7 linked regions of the Homo sapiens genome follow. The protein of the gene in region 1 purifies or fractionates together with the protein of each later gene. This does not show direct contact. Each region holds a gene or a part of one and is shown in the gene's direction. Other genes may lie near its edges.

The links.
Region 2: the proteins of PAXIP1 (region 1) and OGA purify together in Homo sapiens (affinity purification with mass spectrometry, with the first as the bait; one large-scale study listed by BioGRID). This does not show direct contact.
Region 3: the proteins of PAXIP1 (region 1) and SRSF4 purify together in Homo sapiens (affinity purification with mass spectrometry, with the first as the bait; one large-scale study listed by BioGRID). This does not show direct contact.
Region 4: the proteins of PAXIP1 (region 1) and RAB3GAP2 purify together in Homo sapiens (affinity purification with mass spectrometry, with the first as the bait; one large-scale study listed by BioGRID). This does not show direct contact.
Region 5: the proteins of PAXIP1 (region 1) and MOB4 purify together in Homo sapiens (affinity purification with mass spectrometry, with the first as the bait; one large-scale study listed by BioGRID). This does not show direct contact.
Region 6: the proteins of PAXIP1 (region 1) and MAP4K4 purify together in Homo sapiens (affinity purification with mass spectrometry, with the first as the bait; one large-scale study listed by BioGRID). This does not show direct contact.
Region 7: the proteins of PAXIP1 (region 1) and DCAF13 purify together in Homo sapiens (affinity purification with mass spectrometry, with the first as the bait; one large-scale study listed by BioGRID). This does not show direct contact.

Annotation. Positions count from the first base shown.
Region 1 is NC_000007.14:154,993,125-154,996,624, reverse strand, and holds part of PAXIP1 (PAX-interacting protein 1), read left to right. Parts: intron 1-2,853; exon of another isoform or gene 2,854-2,855; coding exon 2,856-2,899; intron 2,900-3,500.
Region 2 is NC_000010.11:101,794,445-101,797,944, reverse strand, and holds part of OGA (protein O-GlcNAcase), read left to right. Parts: intron 1-1,973; coding exon of another isoform or gene 1,974-2,104; exon of another isoform or gene 2,105-2,464; coding exon of another isoform or gene 2,465-2,544; exon of another isoform or gene 2,545-3,500.
Region 3 is NC_000001.11:29,150,901-29,154,400, reverse strand, and holds part of SRSF4 (serine/arginine-rich splicing factor 4), read left to right. Parts: intron 1-3,500. UniProt on the Homo sapiens protein: Plays a role in alternative splice site selection during pre-mRNA splicing. Represses the splicing of MAPT/Tau exon 10.
Region 4 is NC_000001.11:220,150,454-220,153,953, reverse strand, and holds part of RAB3GAP2 (rab3 GTPase-activating protein non-catalytic subunit), read left to right. Parts: intron 1-547; coding exon 548-769; intron 770-2,189; coding exon 2,190-2,348; intron 2,349-2,547; coding exon 2,548-2,703; 3' UTR 2,704-3,500. UniProt on the Homo sapiens protein: Regulatory subunit of the Rab3 GTPase-activating (Rab3GAP) complex composed of RAB3GAP1 and RAB3GAP2, which has GTPase-activating protein (GAP) activity towards various Rab3 subfamily members (RAB3A, RAB3B, RAB3C and RAB3D), RAB5A and RAB43, and guanine nucleotide exchange factor (GEF) activity towards RAB18.
Region 5 is NC_000002.12:197,536,566-197,540,065, forward strand, and holds part of MOB4 (MOB-like protein phocein), read left to right. Parts: intron 1-3,500.
Region 6 is NC_000002.12:101,892,449-101,895,190, forward strand, and holds the end of MAP4K4 (mitogen-activated protein kinase kinase kinase kinase 4), read left to right. Parts: 3' UTR 1-2,242; downstream 2,243-2,742.
Region 7 is NC_000008.11:103,418,386-103,421,885, forward strand, and holds part of DCAF13 (DDB1- and CUL4-associated factor 13), read left to right. Parts: intron 1-1,878; coding exon 1,879-2,078; intron 2,079-2,589; coding exon 2,590-2,697; intron 2,698-3,500. UniProt on the Homo sapiens protein: Part of the small subunit (SSU) processome, first precursor of the small eukaryotic ribosomal subunit.

The DNA of each region.
Region 1 (3,500 bases):
TGATATCATACCCCACAAGTGGGGTCGCCGCTGTGAGGTGACATTTCAGAATGGTGATCAATTCCTGAGCTAAACAAAGCAGTCTTCCTTCATTTTACACAGTATTCATATTCCTGGGAAAGTCAGTATGTAAGGCTAAGTAGAAATACCCATTACTTATACAATTAGCAGTTAGCATCTAGGATTATCACCATTTTGCCAAGGTAGTTTACTGTATTCAAACCCAACTTTTTCCCCCTCTGGCTATAGTATTTTAAAATGAGTGACAGACATATTTCATCTGTACCCAGTAGCATTCCAGCCTGCTTGTAATTTTTGACAGCACCTGTATTGTCCAGGGACTATTGTGTTACATTACAAGGTGGTAGAGTACTTCGGAGCTGACTCAACAGTTTGCCTTCACTCTAAGATATTTCAAGTAGATCCTGATATTCTTAGTTTGAACCTTATGGGCCTGTCTTATTTTGGATCCTGCTGCTAATAGTTGAGTCTGAATTCATATGACTGAAGGCTGAGACCTGGTTCCCTAGAGGCATATCCCTTGGCCTTTACCTTGATAGGAAGTTTGACAATGCATTTTAAAAATAAGGCATCTTTATACACAGTGACAGTTTATCTATCATTTACATATTTGAATCTTATAAATGTTTAAAACTTGCTTCTTTGGGCACCAAAACTTTTAAAATTATTTTTTAAATTGAGATATTTTTCTCAGTGGCCTTTGGGCATCATTGGAAATGTTAATTTTGCTGACTTGTAGTGGGCTTATTTTATTTAATTTTTTTTCAGACAGAATCTCCCAGGCTGGAGTGCAATGGTGTGATCTCGACTCACTGCACCCTCTGCCTCAGGGTTCAAGCGATTCTCCTCTCTCAGCCTCCCTAGTAGCTGGGACTACAGGCGTGTGCCACCACGCCCGGCTAACTTTTGTGTTTTTAGTAGAGACGGGGTTTCACCATGTTGGCCAGGCTGGTCTCGAACCTGTCACCTCAAGTGATCCGCCCGCCTTGGCCTCCCAAAGTGCTGAGATTACAGGCATGAGCCATCGCGATCAGCCAGCTTATTTTTATATATTGTTCTTTGCCTTTAGGATAAATAGTTCCTTATCACTTTGCTTTTGTAGTTCTCCATTTCTGCTTTGTACTGTGGCCTACATCCTAATTTTGCATTATTTTATCTAAACTTATCTGAAGTAGGGCCTCAGTGATTCTACTGTGCTTGGATGGGACTTTATGATAGCCAGCAGTCTTTAAACTGGGATACCCTACCCAAGCTCCCTGGGGGGAGATATTCAGCGTGTATGCTGTGTGGATGGTTGTAAGGTGATAGATAACATTTCCAGACTGGCCCTTCCTAAAGCTGCCTGAGAACACACCTGTGGTCACAGTGGCCCCTCCCACTTTACACAGGAAGAATCAGACCTTCACCCATCCTAATCTTGTAGTGCATTGCCCCAGGCTCTGAAAATTCTCGTGGACAGCAGACAAAAGGACAATTAGAAAGACTGGTTTTAGGGACTGTTCCCTTAGTGCTCAGTCATGGCATCATGAGGAGAGAGGGGTTTCTGGGTGTTGCTGTTGAAAGGAGAGCTTGGTCTACATGAAGGTGTTCTGAATTCAGAAGTGTCAAGGCCAATACCGATTCCTGATGCTGGCCCATTTTTTTAAATTTAACTGGAATTTTTCTAGGACTATCAAAAAATGTGAAGATATGTTGGATAAGGCACATAGATCGAAAAATTAAGTGCCTTCTTTCAGATTTCAGATAACTAATCCAGTAACTTAGTTAAAACCTTTGGTAAATGTCAAATCATAATGAAGTAATTATCCCAGGCACAGCTGCCAATCTTTATTTTATTTTATAAAATGTTTAATATTCCTCTTCTCACAGAAAATATACTTATTTAGAGTTATGCTGAAAAATTTTAGATGTCATCTAAAAAATGATAAGGGGGGCATTTCATTGTCTGAAATTTATTTAAGGTGTACATGACAAAAATAGCTTGAAGATCATTAGCTTGGAATATGACTTGCAGGAGAGCAAAGACTGCGTTTCTCGTTTTCATTGTTACATCCCCAGCGCCTTGCACCATCTCTGCATAAAATAGATTCTCAATAAATATTTGATGAATGAATTGATGGGTGGGTAGTGAGTATATATGTCTGTTTCAGTTGGCTGAAGTTTCTGGAAGTCAGCTGCCTTCCAGAATGTAGTAATGGGGGCATTACTACATTTTGATAGTAATTTTCTGAAGTAGAGCTATCAGGAGAATGATTTGTATAATTATAAAAATTAAACATAGAAACAAGATAATTTTTCAAAAATATAAATTACCCAGAAAGGTAGTAATTAATCTGTTTTATAATTAATCTCAGTTTTTAGAATTTATAAAAATATTTTCAGGCTTACAAACATTGTATCTGCTTGACTTCACTAAAACAAACAAACACCTCATGAATTTAGACTTGACTGAATTTGGGATTCAAGAAGGGAGCGTATGAGAGGCTGACTATGCCCTGGATGAGGTGTCGGCGGTGGTGGGGCAGGATGGGTGGCAGTTCCCCTGTCCTAAATGTGGGGGTCAGCAGTAATAAGTGTGTAAACCTGGAACTTAAATGTTTATACATAATTTTAAAAAAATATGGTAGTGCTTCATTCTGTAATTGGATTTTTCATCTTGGGTATTAGTAACTAATCTTTGACTATAATATTTCTATTTGAATATTCATACTTGTAATCTGGATGTTTTAAAATAGGTTGTAACAGAGACTTTTAATTTCTAAGAACAACACTAGTAAAATAATATGCCACTTGTAAATTGAGAATACTTTTTGATTTAATCTTTTCTTTTTCAGCCTTCTTGGGTGATTCTGTCCGTTCAGTGTGGAACTCTTCTGCCGTATCCTTTTTTTTGAGTGGGGGAGGAGGGAAAGGGTAACTCTGGGTTTAAGACTGAAAGAAATGATAGTTAATGGAGTGAAAAGTGGATTCATTCGTTAGGACAGATTGTTTTGTCTACATCTTATATTCCTACTATTTTCCATCCTGTTTCAAATTTTATGTACCTGATCCTTGTTATTACTCATGTTAAAAGGGGGCTCAGCTGTGACAAGTAACTCTAGGCCGGGAACTGGAGGCAGGAGCTCCGGTTCTCTTCAGCTTTTGTGGTGCTAGCTAGATGAGGGATATTTCTAAAATTCTAAGTCTATGTGAATCAAATCATGAATTGTTTGAAGAGTAAGTTGGGGAAGAGAACATGAGAATAAAATTTATAACATGCATTGTTAATCCTTTTAATTGCATTGGGTAGAACGATTATTAATTCAGTGCACCTGTGCTGTGGGTTGAGTACTGAAAATAGAGGGGTGAAGAAGACCATTTCTGCCCTCAGGGAGCTTCCTTGCTTGCATTGTTCGTTCATGGAGCATTCATAGATGTGCCCTTGCCCTGGCACTGTGTCAGGAGTCAGAAATGAGGCGTTCTACAGGCCTCCTGTTTAC
Region 2 (3,500 bases), on another chromosome or scaffold:
ATATTGTCCCTTTAAAAAAAATTATCCCACAGGGAGAAAAACATTTAGGGAATTGGCACATTTCCAAGTCTCTTCAATTCGTTGCCTAGGTTTCTTTCAAAAATAGGCATTATTGAAGACTTGAGATGCAAGTCTTAGTAAATACATCAAGCACATTAATTTTTCTCCCTTGGGCTAATTCAGCATAAGTATCTTAAAAGTATGTTAGAAAGTACTGACTTTAACTTGCTCTGACTGAATGCTTTCTGGATGGAACCCTGTATACCACTTTTATCTGATTTGGAGATGAGACACTATGAAATGTGACTCCACAAGCTTTCTGCTGCTTGCTGTGTCTTGATAACATTAATGCTATGTTTAACAGAACAATTGCTGAAATGACCTAAAGGGCCTGGCAAGAGGAAGCCATCCTCCCAGCCCTGTGCGCATGCGAGCTTTAGTGTAAGGCTATTCTGGTGCTATTCAGTATTATTTCACGTGGCTTTTTCTTTATCCTTCTACCAAGTATTGGTTTTACCAGGGGATAGAAATTGTAATCCCCTAAACATCTCTGCTACATTAAATGGACTTTTGTATGTCTCCTTTGAACACTGATTTTTTTTTTTTAAATTGTCAAACTTGGTAAAAAGCACCAGCATGGCCAAGTTTCTCTAGGGACTTCATTTCATTTTCAGGTTTTCAATCCAGCTATAAGGAATATGTAATGGACTTATATACAGCACACAGCAGGCAGCAAGGCTGACTGACATGTCATAGTTTTCATAGTAGTCACAAATACTATGATGGGTTTCATGGTCTTGGTTGTGAAATAGATATCTGAAACACCGTGAGCTTAGAATAAAAAGTAGTAGTGAGATTTTCCACTTTCTGCCTGTATACCTTTGAGCTCTTAAATATTTAAAAAAAAAAAAAAAAAGTTTCCCTGTGATACAACTAATTAGCTACTAAAAGTAGAGTCTCAGATTGTTAATTTGAAAATAGATAACTTTTTTTGGATTGCTGTAATAACAGGTAGAAGAGAGTATTTTGACCTCATGTTAAAAGGCTCTGTATAGCTTCGGGCGCGGTTGCTCACCCCTGTAATCCCAGCGCTCTTGGTGGCTGAGGTGGGTGGATCACTTGAGATCAGGAGTTCGAGACCAGCCTGGTGAAAACCAGCATGAGACCAGCATGGTGAAACCCTATCTCTACTAAAAAAATACAAAAATTAGCCAGGCGTGGTGGCGCATGCCTGTAATCCCAGCTACTTGAGAGGCTGAGGCAGGAGAATTGCTTGAACTCAGGAGGCAGAGGTTGCAGTGAGCTGAGATCACACCATTGCACTCCAGCCTGGGCGATAGAGGGAGACTCCATCTCAAAATAAATAAATAAATAAAGGAAATACTGACCGTGCGCAGCGGCTCAAACCTGTAGTCCCAGCACTTAGGGAGGCCTAGGCGGGCAGACCACAAGGTCAGGAGTTTGAGACCAGCCTGGCCAATATGGTGAAACCCCATTTCTACTAAAAATACAAAAATTAGCTGGGCGTGGTGGCATGTGCTTGTAGTCCCAGCTGCTTGGGAGGCTGAGGCAGAAGAATCACTTGAACCCAGGAGGTGGAGGTTGCAGTGAGCCGAGATTGTGTCACTGCACTCCAGCCTGGGTGACAGAGCGAGACTTCATCTTGTGGGGCTGGGGGGAGGCTCTGTATAGCTCCTGTACATGGGAGACATCTACCCTTAGGCTCAAGAGACCTCAATATTGGTTGCTGGATGACAACATTTGCCTTCCAGGTTTCTGCTCAGGTTCTTATAATTCATTCTTATAGGGATTTAAACTTAAGTTTCTAAGGCCCTTAGGAATTTTGAACCTGAAATCTGGATTATTGAGCTTGAAATGTATTACAGAAAACATTTGATATTCAGTTTTTAATTTAAGAATTATTAAAAGTTAAATTCTTAATGATACACAGTATTGTTTCTTTCTCTTCTCAGGGTTTATCTCTGCACTGAGCATTTATGGTGGTAGCTTTCCAAAATTATATAGATACCTCTTACACAATCTCAAGCTCTTACAGCAAGCTTGTCCAGCCTGTGGCTCAACACAAGTTTGTAAACTTTCTTAAAACATTGTGAGTTTTTTTATTTTTTATTTTTTTTAAGCTCATCAACTATCATTAGTGTATTTTATGTGTGGCCCAAGACAGTTCTTCCAGTGTGGCCCAGGGAAGCCAAAAGATTGGACACCCCTTGTAACATCTTAGAAGTTTTAAATAATTATCTTCATATCCACATAGCTTTACAAAAGCTCACGACAGGGAGAGTATTTTCTTGGTTCTGTAGTAATTTCAGGGGGTTTACTGATTGGAACCCTTCCTTTTCCTCCTCTCTCCAGTCCAGCTGGCATTCAGTCCTTTAAACAATGTGGCTATGCAGTACTTTTGATTACTAATGACTTCTATTATCTTCTTCCCCATTGTGTACAGATGGGAGAATCCTCAGCACAAGTGTCTACTACTATTGGATGGACAGCGGCAGATGTTCACAGCGCGTCATGATTAATTAGTTTAAATTGCAAGGTTCTATCTGTGAGGTAGCTCAGGTAGATTTAAGGGCGGTAGACATGAACTGAAGTCACGTTTGCGCAGCGACTGAGGCATTAACCATGTTTTCATTTACACAGCTCTTCGTACATGCAGCTTTTTATTGTAATAGTTGGAAGTGCTAGTTATGTTGTAGTCTCAAAGTAGGGGGTAGGGGAAATTGGCTGATCTTAAAGTTTGAGAGGTATAGTTTTTTTCCTGCAGTGTAAATTACACTGAGTTACGGAATGGGACAGGTTCTCGTATAGTCTAAATTTTGACCCTGTTTCATATTTATTTTACAAATACTACATTTTATGTTTTTTAAAAGTACCCCTACCCTTGAAAAATGACAAACCAGATACAAACTCTTAATGGGCCTGAATTGTTAACAAAAAATTGGTTTGCTTTGGGACTGTCTGACTAGCACACTATATTTGTACTGATGAGACTGTTAACTTGAACAGGAGGTAGAATGCTGTCTTCCAATGGAAAAGAACTATATTGCGCTGCTTTATCTTGTCAGAAGACTAGGCAAGTGATTTTGATTTGGCCTCCAAACATTTGCCTTTATGTCTTACTGTTAGCTAGCGTTATTGCCTATTAAGTTAGTTAACTGGTGACCTTAAATAGAGACTTCTGTATTCCATGTGTATGTTCAGTGTATTGCAAAGATTATTATAATGGCTGGTCAGAGGAACCAGATACTGTCATACTTTTAAGAAAAGTATATTTAGCTCTGGGCAAAATAACATCAATTGGCTCTCCTTAGTTCTCAGAATCTGTCAGACTGGTATTATTAGCCAAGTCTGATTTTGAATTGTTTTTGTCCAAAAAAATTTTTCTCATTATGTTTCATTTTGTCAACTTAATTTCTTGTATTTTATTCTACTGACCTTAGTTTTCTGACAAGATTAATCCTTCTCCCCCGCCCTTTTCC
Region 3 (3,500 bases), on another chromosome or scaffold:
ATATGGTGAAACCCCATCTGTACTAAAAATACAAAAATGCTGGGCGCTGTGGCGCATGTCTGTAATCCCAGCACTTTGGGAGGCCGAGGTGGGTGGATCACCTGATGTCAGGAGTCGAGACCAGCCTGGCCAACATGGCGAAATCTTGTCTCTACTAAAAATAACAAAATTTAGTTGGGCGTGGTGGGTGCCTATAATCCCAGTGACTCGGGAGGCGGAGGCAGAAAAATTGCTTGAAAATTGCTTGAACCCAGTAGGGGCAGAGGTTGCAGTGAGCCGAGATTGTGCCATTGCACTCCAGCCTGGGCAACAAGAGCGAAACTCCATCTCAAAAAAAAAAATGGTGTGGTGGCGCACGTACCTGTAGTCCCAGCTACCCAGGAGGCTGAGGCATGGGAATCGCTTGAACCCAGGAGGCAGAGGTTGCAGTGAGCCGAGATCGCACTATTCCACTCCAGCCTGGGCGACAGGGAGACTCCATCTCAAAAAGGGAAATCAGAGGCCGGGCACAGTGGCTCACGCCTGTAATCCCAGCACTTTGGGAGGCCAAGGCGGGCAGATCACCTGAGGTCAGGAGTTCGAGACCAGCCTCAATATGGAGAAACCCCGTCTCTACTGAAAAAATACAAAAAAATTAGCTAGGCGTTGGTGGTGCATGCCTGTAATCCCAGCTACTCGGGAGGCTGAGGCAGGAGAATTGCTTGAACCTGGGAGGCGGAGGTTGTGGTGAGCCAAGCGCACCGTTGCACTCTAGCCTGGGCAACAAGAGCAAAACACCGTCTCAAAAAAAAAAAAAAAAATGGAAATCAGAGGCCACCTTTCACATTTCTTCTTGGGACCCCTAGATCCTACTACCTTGGTTGATGGCACACATGGCAATTTTGTCTTACTTAGCACCTGAACAGGCCAGGCACTGGGCTAAGCATTGGAAAGGCTTTGTAAAGAAGACAAATGGCCAGACGCGGTGGCTTACACCTGTAATCCCAGCACTTTGGGAGGCTGAGGCGAGTGGATCACCTGAGGTCAGGAGTTCAAGACCAGCCTGGCCAACGTGATGAAACCCCATCTCTACTAAAAATACAAAAGTAAAAAAAAATTAGCCAGGCATGATGGCACACGCCTGTGGTCCCAGCTACTAGGGAGGCTGAGGCAGGAGAATCGCTTAAACCGGAACCCAGGAGGCAGGGGTTGCAGTGAGCAGAGATCACTCCACTATACTCCAGCCTGGGCGACAGAAAGAGACTCTGTCTCAAAAAAAAGACAAATATGGTCCTTGCCCCCCTGAAACTCAGTCTAGCGTAGAAGATGAGTATTGAATAAACCGTGCTATTGTGACAAGAAAATGCACACAGCACAACTAGTCTAGAGAGCTGGCAACAGCTTCCCTAAGGACATGCTGTAGAACTGAGCCCTAATGAATAAGGCAGAGAGATGGTGAGCAGAAGAAAATGCCTTTCTTTCTTTCTTTTTTTTTTTTTGAGACGGAGTTTCTTTCACTCTGTCACCCAGGCTGGAGTGTAGTGGCACAATCTCGGCTTACTGCAACTTCCACCTCCCGGGTTCAAGCGATTCTCCTGCCTCAGCCTCCTGAGTAGCTGGGATCACAGGTGCACACCACCATGCCTGGCTAATTTTTGTAATTTTAGTAGAGACAGAGTTTCACCATGTTGGGCAGACTGGTCTCGAACTCCTGACCTCAGGTGACCCACCCACCTCGGCCTTCCAAAGTGCTTGGATTACAGTCTTGAGCCACCGTGCCCGTCGAGAAAATGCCTATCTATCTAACAGAAAAGGGTGTTTCTGAAGGCCTGGGGGCAGGAGAAAGTTTTCCAGAGTAGAGAAGCTAATATAGAGAGGTAACGGGAGGAGAGTGGCTTGAGATAAGGCAGAGAAGGACCAGATATACTGACCATTAGGCCAGAGCAAGAATGGAAGAGTAGTGAGAAGTCACTGGAGACTTTTCAGGTTTTGTTATTTAGGTCTTTTGACTTTTTATTATGGAAAATTTGAAATTTATATATGAAGCATTGGAGAACTCTGAATTGCACCTCCCACTCCTCCAGCTTCTGTAGTTTTTATTTTGCCAGTCTTGTTTCACATCACCCGCTCCTGCTGCATTGTTGTAAGGCAAGTCTAGACATCTATCATTCCATCTGCAACTGCTTCAGTATGTATCTGTAGTATTTTAAAAGAAACCATGATAACATAGCTAGCAAAATTAGCAATAATTCCATACTATGATGTAATATCTAGGTTGTATTCCAATTTTTCAGTTGTTTGTTTGTTGTAGAAATGGAGTCTTGCTATGTTACCCAGGCTGGTCTTGAACTCCTGGGTTCAAGCGGTCCTCCCACCTCAGCCTCCCAAAGTGCTGAGATTACAGACGTGAGCCACTGCACCCTGCCCTAGTTGTCTCAAATAGGTATTTTTGCAATTGGTTTCTTCAAACAAAAGTTGAAAGAATAGTTAATGAACACCTGTATACCCTCCTCTGGCTTTAACAGATAGCATTTTGCCTTTTCTCTCTTTGTATGTATGTATTTATACAAGCACACTGTACATTTATTTTGTTGTAGCATTTGAAAGTAAGTTGTAGAAATTATGATACTTTGCCCCTAAATACTTCAGCATGTGTCTCCAAGAATGAGGATAACCACAGTTCTGTTTTTTCACCTAAGAACATTAATAGTAATTCCATCTAATTACTAAATGCCCAGGCCATATTCATGTTTCCCCAGTTACTCCATGGATGTCTTTATAGCTGGGTTTTTTCTTAACCGGGATCTAATCCAGTCATGTAGTACAAGGGGTTTTTAGGTAAAACCTAATGTAGTCAGGCTTTTAGTGTGGAGCAGTTCCTTCATGACATTTATTTTGCTTAGGTTTGGGTTTTTTTGTTTGTTTGAGACGGACTCTTGCTCTGTCGCCCAGGCTGGAGTGCAGTGGCACCATCTCAGCTCATTGCAGCCTCTGCGTCCCAGGTTCAAGCTATCCTACTGCCTCAGCCTCCCAAGTAGCTAGGATTACAGGCGTGAGCCACCACTCCTGGCTTATTTTTCTTAGTTTTTTAATACTCACATTCTGTATTTATCTGTTTCTTCTTAGTATCATTGAACTTGTATCTTATCCCCTGAACTTCCTATATACTGGAAGTTAGGTCTGGAGAGGTGTGATTGAGATGCAGGTTAAACATTTTTAGCAAGAATACTTCATAGGTGATGGTGCCTGGGCAGCTTTGAAAGTTTCCCTCTTTCTGTCATAATGAGATGGTCTAGGCCCATCTTTGTGTACTACTTCCTGCTTTACGCCTGGAGTCAGTCATTTTCCCAAGGAGTCCTGGTTGGTAGAAAATAAGAATCTACAGTCTGGATGCATTAAAAAAATTTTGTAAAGCTTGGATTGTCGGTCTCTTTAAAACAGCTCTCGTCACAGTGAGTTGAATAGATCGTAAAGGGGAAAAGTATACACAGAAAGGCTGGTTGTTGAACAAGGGGAGAGAT
Region 4 (3,500 bases), on another chromosome or scaffold:
TTGGATTTTGTTTTTGTTTCTTGGAAAAAAAAACATAAGGGAAAAATCTAGCTGGCTTTTGAAAAGAATGACTACTTTCTATCGCAAGGACAGAAAACCAAACAGCACATGTTCTCACTCATAGGTGGGAGTTGAACAATGAGAACACTTGGACACAGGGTGGGGAACATCACACACCAGGGCCTGTCGTGGGGTGGGGGGAAGGGGGAGGGATAGCATTAGGAGATATACCTAATGTAAATGATGACTTAAGGGGTGCAGCACACCAACATGGCACATGTATACATATGTAACAAACCTACACGTTGTGCACATGTACCCTAGAACTTAAAGTATAATAATAAAAAATAATAATAATATTTAAAAAAGACCAATTTCAAAGTATTCTTGAGAGCTAGTTGTTTAAATGATGTGTTCCTTTTTTGATAACTAAACAATTTAATGGAAAAGCCACTATAAGTGACAGAAAAGCTAACAATACTTGGTTTAGGTATTTTAAAATGAAACAGTAACAATGCATTGCTCTATCTCTTTCTCCATTTTCAAGTTCTTATTGAAAGTTGTCAGTGCAGCTGTCCAGGCCCAACATTCAGCCACAAAGGTCAAAGATCCCACAGAAGAGGCCACACCCACTCCTTTTGGGAAAGACCAAGATTGGCCAGCTCTAGCTGTGGATTTAGCCCATCACCTTCAAGTTAGTGAAGATGTTGTTAGAAGGCATTATGTGGGGGAACTATACAACTATGGAGTTGACCACTTAGGAGAAGAGGTAATCATGACCCTTTGAATGTTAATTGGGCTCAAGTTATAAAATTGATAGTTGGAATAAAGAATCAGTTAAGTTTCCAATGAAGCCTTTTGCTCTTCCTTTTATTAGAACATCTAGGTATAAAAATAGAACAATAGAATATTTTTTAAAACATAAAATTATAATCAAATAATTCCTACAGTGTGCCAGGCCTGCCCTACGCACAGGGATATAGCAGTAAACAAAACAGACAAGGTTCCTTCATCATGGACTTGATAGTCTGCTGGTAGGAGCAGAAAAGCATGCTAAATTTTGCATTGAATGATAGGTGCTATGAAGAAAATAAAGAGGGCCGGGTGTCGTGGCTCACACGTGTAATCCCAGCACTTTGGAAGGCTCAGGTGGCAGATCACTTGAGCCCAGAAGCTCGAGACCAATCTGGGCAATATAGCGAGACCCCGTCTCTAAAAAGGAAAAAAATATTTATTTTTAAATTGAAAAAGAAAGAAACAGGATCATATGAATAAACAGGAGCCACTACAGTAGAGTGGTCAGAGAAGGTGACATTTGAACCGAGCCCCCAAGGAGAAGCAGCAGCCAGCTACTCAGAAACTGGGGGAACAGTGCTTGAGACAAGAATTACAAAGGCCCTGAGGTGGGGACTAGAATGACTAGGTCCAGGACTAGAAAGGCCAGTATGGCTGACCAAACATAGTAAGCAAGGAATAAAGAAGTATGGCATGAGGCAGGGAGGCTGGCCCGGGCCATGGCCCTATCCTAGGTCTCGGAGCCCATGGTTATTCTAAGTGTATTCAGAAGCCATTAGAGGGGCTGGGCGTGGTGGCTCACGCCTGTAATCCTAGCACTTTGGGAGGCCAAGGTGGGTGGATCACTTGAGGTCAGGAGTTCAAGACCAGCCTGGGCAACATGGTGAAACCCTGTCTCTACTGAAAATACAAAAAATTAGCTGGGCGTGGTGGCATGTGCCTGTAATCCCAGCTACTTGGGAGGCTGAAGCAGGAGAATCGCTTGAACCCAGGAGGTGGAGGCTGCAGTAAGCTGAGATTGCACCACTGCACTCCAGCTTGGGTGGCAGAGTGAGACTCCATCTCAAAAAACAACAAAAAAAAGCCATTAGAGGGTTTCAAATAGACATGACATGAAACTCCTTTTATTTGCCAAAAGTTTGAAAACAGCACACTGAGTAGCCACATTGAATTGAAAGATTAGGTGATGAGAGAAAAAAAAATTAACCAAGGAACAGAAATTTGGGTTTAAATGCTAAGTTTGATTTGGATTTATCTTTGGTTGTATACAATCAAAAGATAAATGGCCACAGTTCAAAAATCAACTAGAATCTCTTCACTGGCAACCCCTTTCCTATAGAATAAACAAATCTGCTCACTCTGACTGTATTATTTCTCCATGTTCCTATCTTCAGGCCATTCTACAGGTTCATGACAAAGAGGTCCTTGCCTCTCAGCTGCTGGTGCTCACGGGGCAAAGGCTGGCTCATGCGCTTCTCCACACCCAGACAAAAGAAGGAATGGAGCTGCTTGCCAGACTTCCACCCACACTGTGTACTTGGCTGAAAGCAATGGTCAGTACAATAGAACGAGATCAGGCAAAAGGTCATTGGATGTTTTCTTGAGTGCCTGGTTAATAACAGTTATGAAGAAAATTTGACAAGTTTAATTCACCTAGTTACAAAGAAAAGCATTTTTATGTAATAACTCTTAAGTCAATAACAATTATTGTTTAGTTGTCTATAATAGGTTATTTTTGTGTCCCATTTGCAGGACCCCCAGGACCTTCAAAACACTGAAGTGCCAATTGCAACAACAGCTAAACTAGTAAATAAAGTAATTGAGCTTTTACCAGAAAAACATGGGCAATATGGTCTAGCCTTACACCTCATTGAAGCTGTGGAAGCCATATCTCTTCCTTCTTTATGACACTTACCTACTGGAAATAGTCTAAAATTATGATTATAACATGAAGTAGTGCATGGTTATTTTACATAGTAAGACCTGGAATTTTATGGGAAAAGTATGTCTTTTTTTTTCCTTTTGTAAAATAAATAAAAGTATATACAACTTTTAAAAAGTGCAACCCTGGCTAAATTCCACTCCTTTGGTTAATACTGAAGATAAAATATAAACAAATGTCAACTCTGTTATAATTAATACAGATGTTTTACTGTTTATTTCTAATTCAAACACTTAAGTAGCTTTATTGTTAAACTTTGCTATTTAAAATTGGTTATAATTTAGATTATGTTCTTATAAGATTCTATATTTCCTATCTAAAATGTTGTTGTAATTCAATTTAAATGTGTTCATGTACAGTCCCCATCAGTAGCGTATAGAACACCCCACTCTCCTTTAGTAAATGTTGAGAAAATGCCTTTGTTGTCATGCTCCAAATCCCACACTGGGCTGCCACCTGGGAGTTCTGGATACCGAAAGGTTCCTTTCCCAGAGGTTCTGCTGTTGCCATCAGAGGAGGATGACCGTGCTTGAGGAGGAAGAATGGGTTCAAGATCATCATATTCATCAGAAGGGGACACTAAATAGAACCCTTAACCTGTTGTACTTGCCAAAATTGAGAATCAGAGATGTGTAAAATGCAGCAAATTAATTATAATGTAAGTTAAGATTTGCTTTTTGCCAAGTTGCAAAGTTGTATCCACATCAGGTCACTGTAAAAATGTATTATCTTGTAAAACTTATGTAAAAAAAAAAAAAAAAAA
Region 5 (3,500 bases), on another chromosome or scaffold:
CATTTTTGCATAACTGTGTCATCTTTTGTCTTTTTTTTTTTTTTTTTTTTTTTTGAGACAGAGTCTTGCTCTGTTGCCTAGGCTGGAGTGCAGTGGTGTGATCCCGGCTCACCACAACCTCTGCCTCCCGAGTTCAAGTGATTCTTCTGCCTCAGCCTCCCGAGTAGCTGGGACTACAGGCGCAGCCATGCCCAGCTAATTTTTGTATTTTTAGTAGAGATGGGGTTTCACTATGTTGGCCAGGCTGGTCTCGAACTCCTGACCTCATGATCTGCCCGCCTCAGCCTCCCAAAGTGCTGGGATTACAGGTGTGAGCCACCGTGCCTGACTTGTCTTTTTTTTTTCCTTTGTTTCTGTAGAGATGGGGTCTCACTGTGTTGCCCAAGCTGGTCCTGAAATCCTGGGCTCAAGTGATCCTCCCATCTCAGCCTGCCAAAGTGCTGGGATTATACAGGCATGAGCCACTGCACTTGGCCACTTTATGTTTTTGTAGAGGATTACTTCCAGTTCCTAGTCTAGGCTTGGTATCTGATAAGTTACCTGTAAATTATTGCAAACTTCCAGTCTTCTCTTTGGTAAATAGAGATTAATTGTAATCCTGAAGTAAGGAGTTTTGGTGCTTTTTATAATGCCCTTTGAATGAAAAAATTGATAACTAGTGGATAGGTGGAGATAACATTAAAAGTAGATATATTCTGAAGTTACTAGGTGTTTCTTGAAATTATAAATTTTCCAGTGCAAATGGGAGCTGGGATGAGTTGACAGATTATTAATAAATATAGAGAATGCAGTATGTGTTCATTGGGGCTTATTATTTGTAAGTTGATTTTTAGATAAATAGAGTAGAAATATGACTTTTCCTGAATAAATTAGACCATGTTTCCTGTGTTGTGTGCCTCAACTTGTAGACAAGGCACTTTTTAAAAATATTTACTTTTTGATGCTGCATGCTTCTTTAGAAATGGCTAAGACATTATGTCGTGTCATAACAGTTCAGCAATTTCAGGATGCTAAGACTTCTTTGTATCCTTTGCCAGTTTTTAGACAAATTACTTGACTATTTTCTAACTTTTTAATATATATGAATGCACAATAATTCAAAGTACGAGTCTGTAGATATTTTCCCATTTTTACAACCCAAGACAGAGAGCACTTTAGTGTAGTACATCCTTTGCTTTATTTTTATCAGCCTTGAAAATAACTGCTTTCTTATGTTTTTTTTCTTGAGACAAGAGTCTCGAGTCTCGCTTTGTCACCAGGCTGGAGTGCAGTGGTGTGATCTCGGCTCATTGCAACCTCCGCCACATGGGTTCAAGCGATTCTCCTGCCTCAGCCTCCCAAGTAGCTGGGACTACAGGCACACGCCACCATGCCCAGCTAATTTTTGTATTTTTAGTAGAGATGGGGTTTCACCATGTTGGTCAGGATGGTCTTGATCTCCTGACCTCACGATCTGCCCACCTTGGCCTCCCAAAGTGCTGGGATTACAGGCGTGTGCCACCACACTTGGCCGTTTTTTCCATTACAAGCATAATTCCTAACAAATAGGGGCTGATTTTAGTGTTACAAGGGTTTTTTTTTTTTCAGATCTAAGAAAACATTTATCTCCCTATTTAACTTATTCTATGAAACATTATATAAAACATTACATAAAACTTTACATGAAATATTTCTCACAAGTATTTCATTTGTTCTGGTGCTATTTTTACTTTTGTTATTTTTTTCTACTAGCCACTTTTTGGTCTGGGTTGTATATTAACTATCGTATATATTCTTTTATCTCTTTATTGTATTGTGTACATTTTATTAGTTGACCAGGAAGAGGTTTTTTTTTTTTTTTGCATACATCCTTTATTGATTTGAGGCTGTATACTTGCCATTTTTAGTTAATGCAGTTGATTATATAATGATGTTAATTTAGATTGGGTCATGACTTCAGTCATATCTCCCACTAGCTCATATTGAGTCTTAATGATTAGGAAAAAGTACTCCTTTATGTCCGGATACATGCGTGGTGACTGGAATGTAGGCTGGATTCCAGCTCTGGTTGGTCTCTTCAGCTGCACAACTGTGTACATGTTAGCCCTGTATTAAATTAACTTGAAGTTGTGAGTTTTGCATTATTTGCCACAGATTATACCCACAGCCCTGCTGAATCAACTTAATTTTGCTTTTGGCTATAAAAGGGTTGGGTAAGAAACTTACCACAACCAGTCTTTATTACCACTTGGTGGAAAACAACTAAAAAACACATAACATGCAGTCTACTTGATAGGGGACAGTAGAGGGTGATACGGTGATTTAGAAATAATGTTATTTTTGTAATCTAAGGACAGCATTATTAGGCATCTGGAAAGGAAATGCAGTTACAAACAACTGAAAATTTGACCCTTGCCTTTTTGTTTTCCTCTGTTACAATGTGCAGTAAGTAAGTAAATGAAGTTTTTCCACCAAATTTGTTCACATATATCCTGTTTTTTTCTTTTTTGGGGGGATTTTTTTTTGTCTTCTGATTATATAGGTGTTAGCTTTGCATTGTTTTGGGAACCAAAATGATTCAATTTTTCTGATGGGGAAACATAGTATTGATTTATCTAACCTGATACATTGAACTAAATATTAATAGGTAGGACTTTAGGAGGGAACACGTTCAGTGTTTTGACAGCTGTAAAACTACCTTTGTGACATAGAAGATTGTCTTTTTATCAAATAGCTGTCTAAAACTGATGGCCTCAGTGCAATTGTAATGTAATTTTTTTTTTTTTTTTTTTGAGATGGAGCCTTACTCTGTTTCCCAGGCTGGAGTGCAGTAGTGTGATCTTGGCTCACTGCAACCTCCGACTCCCAGGTTCAAGCAGTTCTCCCTCCTCAGCCTCCTGAATAGCTGAGATTGCAGGCACCCGCTATTATGCCCGGCTAATTTTTGTATTTTTGTGGCGATGGAGTTTCACCATTTTGGCCAGGATGGTCTTGAACTCCTGACCTCAAGTGATTCACCTGCCTCGGCCTCCCAAAGTGTTGGGATTACAGGCCTGAGCCACTGCGCCCTGCTGTAATTTCTTTGTATGTTTCTATGTACCAACATTTTATTACCCTCCAGTTGCTGAATTTTTCTACAATTCAGAAATTTTCTCATATGCATATATAGCTCCTGTGAACATCTTTATACATTTATCTGCATGCAGATCTGATTATTTCATTACAATAGATTCTTAGAAGAATGACTTAGTCGAAAAGTATACACTTCCTAAAAGTCTTGGTAAATATTTCCAAATTACTTCCCTGAAAAATTGTACTAATTTCTAGTATATAAGAGAATGATCAGCTCACTTAACTCTGGTATTGAATGTTATGAGGGTTATTGGTTTTCTATTTTTAATCTGTAAGCCTTTAGAAGAAATGTGTCATTGTCAGTTTAGGTGGTTTTGAGAATGGTAATGAGGGAGGAGGGATGATACTGATGGGATTCTCTTTTTGCAGCTAATATTCTAAAAATTGCT
Region 6 (2,742 bases), on another chromosome or scaffold:
GGTTGATGGGGCAACTGCAGCCCATGACACAAGATCTCATTGTTCTCGATGTAGAGGGGTTGGTAGCAGACAGGTGGTTACATTAGAATAGTCACACAAACTGTTCAGTGTTGCAGGAACCTTTTCTTGGGGGTGGGGGAGTTTCCCTTTTCTAAAAATGCAATGCACTAAAACTATTTTAAGAATGTAGTTAATTCTGCTTATTCATAAAGTGGGCATCTTCTGTGTTTTAGGTGTAATATCGAAGTCCTGGCTTTTCTCGTTTTCTCACTTGCTCTCTTGTTCTCTGTTTTTTTAAACCAATTTTACTTTATGAATATATTCATGACATTTGTAATAAATGTCTTGAGAAAGAATTTGTTTCATGGCTTCATGGTCATCACTCAAGCTCCCGTAAGGATATTACCGTCTCAGGAAAGGATCAGGACTCCATGTCACAGTCCTGCCATCTTACTTTCCTCTTGTCGAGTTCTGAGTGGAAATAACTGCATTATGGCTGCTTTAACCTCAGTCATCAAAAGAAACTTGCTGTTTTTTAGGCTTGATCTTTTTCCTTTGTGGTTAATTTTCCTGTATATTGTGAAAATGGGGGATTTTCCCTCTGCTCCCACCCACCTAAACACAGCAGCCATTTGTACCTGTTTGCTTCCCATCCCACTTGGCACCCACTCTGACCTCTTGTCAGTTTCCTGTTCCTGGTTCCATCTTTTTGAAAAAGGCCCTCCTTTGAGCTACAAACATCTGGTAAGACAAGTACATCCACTCATGAATGCAGACACAGCAGCTGGTGGTTTTGTGTATACCTGTAAAGACAAGCTGAGAAGCTTACTTTTTGGGGAAGTAAAAGAAGATGGAAATGGATGTTTCATTTGTATGAGTTTGGAGCAGTGCTGAAGGCCAAAGCCGCCTACTGGTTTGTAGTTAACCTAGAGAAGGTTGAAAAATTAATCCTACCTTTAAAGGGATTTGAGGTAGGCTGGATTCCATCGCCACAGGACTTTAGTTAGAATTAAATTCCTGCTTGTAATTTATATCCATGTTTAGGCTTTTCATAAGATGAAACATGCCACAGTGAACACACTCGTGTACATATCAAGAGAAGAAGGAAAGGCACAGGTGGAGAACAGTAAAAGGTGGGCAGATGTCTTTGAAGAAATGCTCAATGTCTGATGCTAAGTGGGAGAAGGCAGAGAACAAAGGATGTGGCATAATGGTCTTAACATTATCCAAAGACTTGAAGCTCCATGTCTGTAAGTCAAATGTTACACAAAAAAAAATGCAAATGGTGTTTCATTGGAATTACCAAGTGCTTAGAACTTGCTGGCTTTCCCATAGGTGGTAAAGGGGTCTGAGCTCACACCGAGTTGTGCTTGGCTTGCTTGTGCAGCTCCAGGCACCCGGTGGGCACTCTGGTGGTGTTTGTGGTGAACTGAATTGAATCCATTGTTGGGCTTAAGTTACTGAAATTGGAACACCCTTTGTCCTTCTCGGCGGGGGCTTCCTGGTCTGTGCTTTACTTGGCTTTTTTCCTTCCCGTCTTAGCCTCACCCCCTTGTCAACCAGATTGAGTTGCTATAGCTTGATGCAGGGACCCAGTGAAGTTTCTCCGTTAAAGATTGGGAGTCGTCGAAATGTTTAGATTCTTTTAGGAAAGGAATTATTTTCCCCCCTTTTACAGGGTAGTAACTTCTCCACAGAAGTGCCAATATGGCAAAATTACACAAGAAAACAGTATTGCAATGACACCATTACATAAGGAACATTGAACTGTTAGAGGAGTGCTCTTCCAAACAAAACAAAAATGTCTCTAGGTTTAGTCAGAGCTTTCACAAGTAATAACCTTTCTGTATTAAAATCAGAGTAACCCTTTCTGTATTGAGTGCAGTGTTTTTTACTCTTTTCTCATGCACATGTTACGTTGGAGAAAATGTTTACAAAAATGGTTTTGTTACACTAATGCGCACCACATATTTATGGTTTATTTTAAGTGACTTTTTATGGGTTATTTAGGTTTTCGTCTTAGTTGTAGCACACTTACCCTAATTTTGCCAATTATTAATTTGCTAAATAGTAATACAAATGACAAACTGCATTAAATTTACTAATTATAAAAGCTGCAAAGCAGACTGGTGGCAAGTACACAGCCCTTTTTTTTGCAGTGCTAACTTGTCTACTGTGTATTATGAAAATTACTGTTGTCCCCCCACCCTTTTTTCCTTAAATAAAGTAAAAATGACACCTATTTTATGTGGCATGAGTTTCGAATATGTTCTGACCCTTCAGAATGTTTCCTTCCTGTGAGGATCCATATTTTATGCATACCTGCCTACCCTGAGCTTCCCGTACCAGAGCAGGCTCCTGTATTTTGCTATTTCAGATGACAGGGGCTTGCCCAAGGCCAGGTATAGATTACAAAAGTAGCAAATGTTTGTCTAAAGACCTCAGAGATGAAGTGGGAGATGAACCTCCATCACCAGGTTCCTGAAGACAGTATGGAGTAAAGCTGGTCCTTAAAGAAATGTCACATTTTTGCAGTTTTGAATTTGGATCAAAAAATACAACAGCATGATGTCTGTAATAGGTCAATTAAAGTAGCTCTTTCTCAGTTTGGTGCATAAATACTAACTTGGGTTTAATAATTGGAGCCCCTTCAATGTAAGGTCATTGTGTCTTCAGCGCTGGGGTTCCCCATCAACCCCCCCATAGGCCTGGTAGGCATGATCGCCGTCGGGCAAATCTGGG
Region 7 (3,500 bases), on another chromosome or scaffold:
GGTGCATGCCTCAGGTCCAAGCTACTTGGGAGGCTGAGGTGAGAGGCTAAGGTGGGAGGATCACTTAAGCCCTGGAGGTTGAGGCTGCAGTAGGCTATAGTCATATCACTGCATTCCAGCTTGGGTGACAGAATGATACCGCATCTCAAAACAAAAACAAAAACAAAACACAAAAAACTAGAAATAGAGAGTTGAAAGATGAGTAAGTGTTGCAAAGAGATGATGAGTAGGACTTTGAGTTTTGGTAGTAGGGAATATGGAAGATGGAATACATAAGAATGACCTAGGCTAGAGCTTTGTTGAATGTTAGATATAACACCATTACCAGGGAGTCAGAAAGAAACAGCAGGATGAAGTCATGGGGTAAGAAGATGCATTTACTTTTTACTCACTGAGTTTTTTTAGACATACGAGCTTAAAATTACTTTCTAAGCATAATTATATATATATATATATATATATATATATATATATATATATATTTTTTTTTTTTTTTTTTTTTTTTTTTTTTTTTTTGAGATGAAGTCACACTCTGTCAGCCAGGCTGGAGTGCAGTGGCGCGATCTCGGCTCACTGCAACCTCCACCTCCCAGGTTCAAGTGATTCTTTTGCCTCAGCCTCCTGAGTAGCTGGGACTGCAGGCACATACCACCCCCACCGCTGGCTAACTTTTTGTATTTTTAGTAGATGGGATTTCACTGTGGTAGCCAGGATGGTCTCGATCTCCTGACCTCGTGATCCGTCCGTCCCGGCCCCCCAAAGTGCTGGGATTACAGGCGTGAGCCACCACGCCCGGCCCTAAGCGTGATTATTAACCAAGACAATGTGTTTAGCAGCGTATCAGGACAGTTAAAACATAGATTCTGGAGCCATACTGCCTTGGTTTGAATCCTGGCTCCACCGTGTCGTATTCGAGTTACTTAACCTCTTTATGCCTCAGTTTTCCCATCAATAAAGTGTGAGATAGTAATAGAACTTAACACATAGGATGCTGTGGAGATTAAACGGTTAAGGTTTTTGGAACAGCGCCTGGCACTTGAACTCTTATGTGAGTCTTTTTTAAGTAAGTAAACAAACATAGAAAGTGCTCAGTAAATGATAGCTATATAATATCATCATAATCACAACTTCGTGTGTCTATCAGCACAGTATTTAGCACCAGAGATTAATAATGTTCCCTGCCCTACAGGAAGCTTAGAGTTCTGTTGAGCAAACATCTTGCACATATTTTGTCCCAGAAACTGTGCTAGGCATAAGGAAGTACAAATGAAAAGTGTATTGGAAGCCCTGACAGTGAACACTTACAACCCAGTTGAAGAGGGTACTAGGACATATAAAAGGGAGGCCGGGCACGGTGGCTCATGCCTGTAATCCCAGCACTTTGGGAGGCTGAGGCGTGTGGATCACGAGGTCACGAGATCGAGACCAGCCTGACCAATATGGTGAAACCCCATCTCTACTAAAAATAGAAAAATTAGCTGGGCGTGGTGGCATGCGCCTGTAATCCCAGCTACTCGGGTGGCTGAGGCAGGAGAATTGCTTGAACCTGAGAAGCGGAGGTTGCAGTGAGCCGAGATTGCGCCACTGCACTCCAGCCTGGTGACGGAGCAAGACTCCGTCTCAAAAAAAAAAAAAAAAGGAAATGCTGCATGTATATATACCTAGGGTCTAATTGTTTTGCAAGATGTATGCATCCCATGATTTTCCAGTAATTTCAGAAAGATTTCTGAACAACAGGTCTTCTACTTTTGTATTCTTAGTGTTAGGCATAGAACAATGTCACTAACTAAATGCTTATTGAATAACAGAGTGATTAGCTGAGGAAGACTGCAGGAAATATTAAGTGTGAATTATTAAGAAGGATCATTCTTATTTCAGTTCCAAGAAACTATGATCCTGCTTTACATCCTTTTGAGGTCCCACGAGAATATATAAGAGCTTTAAATGCTACCAAACTGGAACGAGTATTTGCAAAACCATTCCTTGCTTCGCTGGATGGTCACCGTGATGGAGTCAATTGCTTGGCAAAGCATCCAGAGAAGCTGGCTACTGTCCTTTCTGGGGCGTGTGATGGAGAGGCAAGTGTCAATCTAGATGATATTTTCAACTAAAAGTAGTTATATTACAAATGTTTTCCCTTTAGTTTTTAGTTACTGTAGGTTTTACTTTATTGGATTTCAATTTACTTCTCAAGACTAAATTTCGTTAGGAATACTGTTTAGTATTTTCTTCTTTAAACCTAAGAAATTATAAATGCAGTAGTTTAAGGATCAATTTGACAGTAAATTAAATAATCATGTTTATAATTAAAGTATTTAAGTATGAGTTTTTTCACAGATGTTGTCAACACCTAATTTCCTACTATGGCAAGTGAAAAAGTTTTGTAACACTTTAGAATCAACAGAGTATTTGTCAGGTTGTATTTTTTGCTCATCAGTATACTTATCCATATGCATTGCATTGTTTTAATCCAAAGGATTTTGGTTTTAGCTGCCCAGTAGAGTGATTCGTAGCCTTGTCAGTGTTGAATTTATCCTGAACATTTTACATTTATAGTTCACTGAAATTTCCTGGTATGCCTTATCATAGGTTAGAATTTGGAATCTAACTCAGCGGAATTGTATCCGTACAATACAAGCACATGAAGGCTTTGTACGAGGAATATGTACTCGCTTTTGTGGGACTTCTTTTTTCACTGTAAGTATAATACCATTAAGTCATTAAATTTGATCAACATAGGTAAGAATAATCTAATTGAATACATTTTTTTTCAAGTTCATTTATTTGTTCCTAGGCCCTTTTGGAGTTTCACAATGCAAAATAGCTTATTAAACCTTGAAAATTACTAGTTTTCTTTATATAATTCAGCCTTCCCCATAACTTAACATGATTAAACTAATATTCAATTTACCACAAAAGTGGAATTAATGAGAGGTAAGTCTAGAAAGAGTTTGGCTTACTCTGGAGGATTTTTGATGCTAAGATGAGTAATTTGTACTTTTGTTAGTCAGATAATAAGGAATCATCGAAGTTTTGTGCCTGTGTGTGGCAAGATATCCGGAACGTAAAATTTACTCTCTGTTTTTAAATATACAGTTTGGTGGCATCCAGTACATTCACATCACTGTGCAACCATCACCACCATCTGTCTTCAGAACTTTTTCATCATCCCCAGCTGAAACTATAGTCATTAAACAATAACTCCTCTGTCCCCTCAGTCCCCAACCCCTGGTAACTACTATTTTACTTTTTGCCTCTGTGATTTTGACTATTCTGGGTACCTCATATAAATAGAAGCATATTTTAAAGAATTATACCATTTTGTGTATGTGGAATAAGGCTTTTGGGTCTGGCTTATTTTACTTAACATAATTGTCTTCAAGGTTTATCCATGTTGTAGTACATGTCAGAATTTCCTTTCTTTTTATGGCTAAATAACATTCCATTGTATGTGTCACATTTTGTTTATCCGTTCATTCATCAATGAGCATTTGATTTGT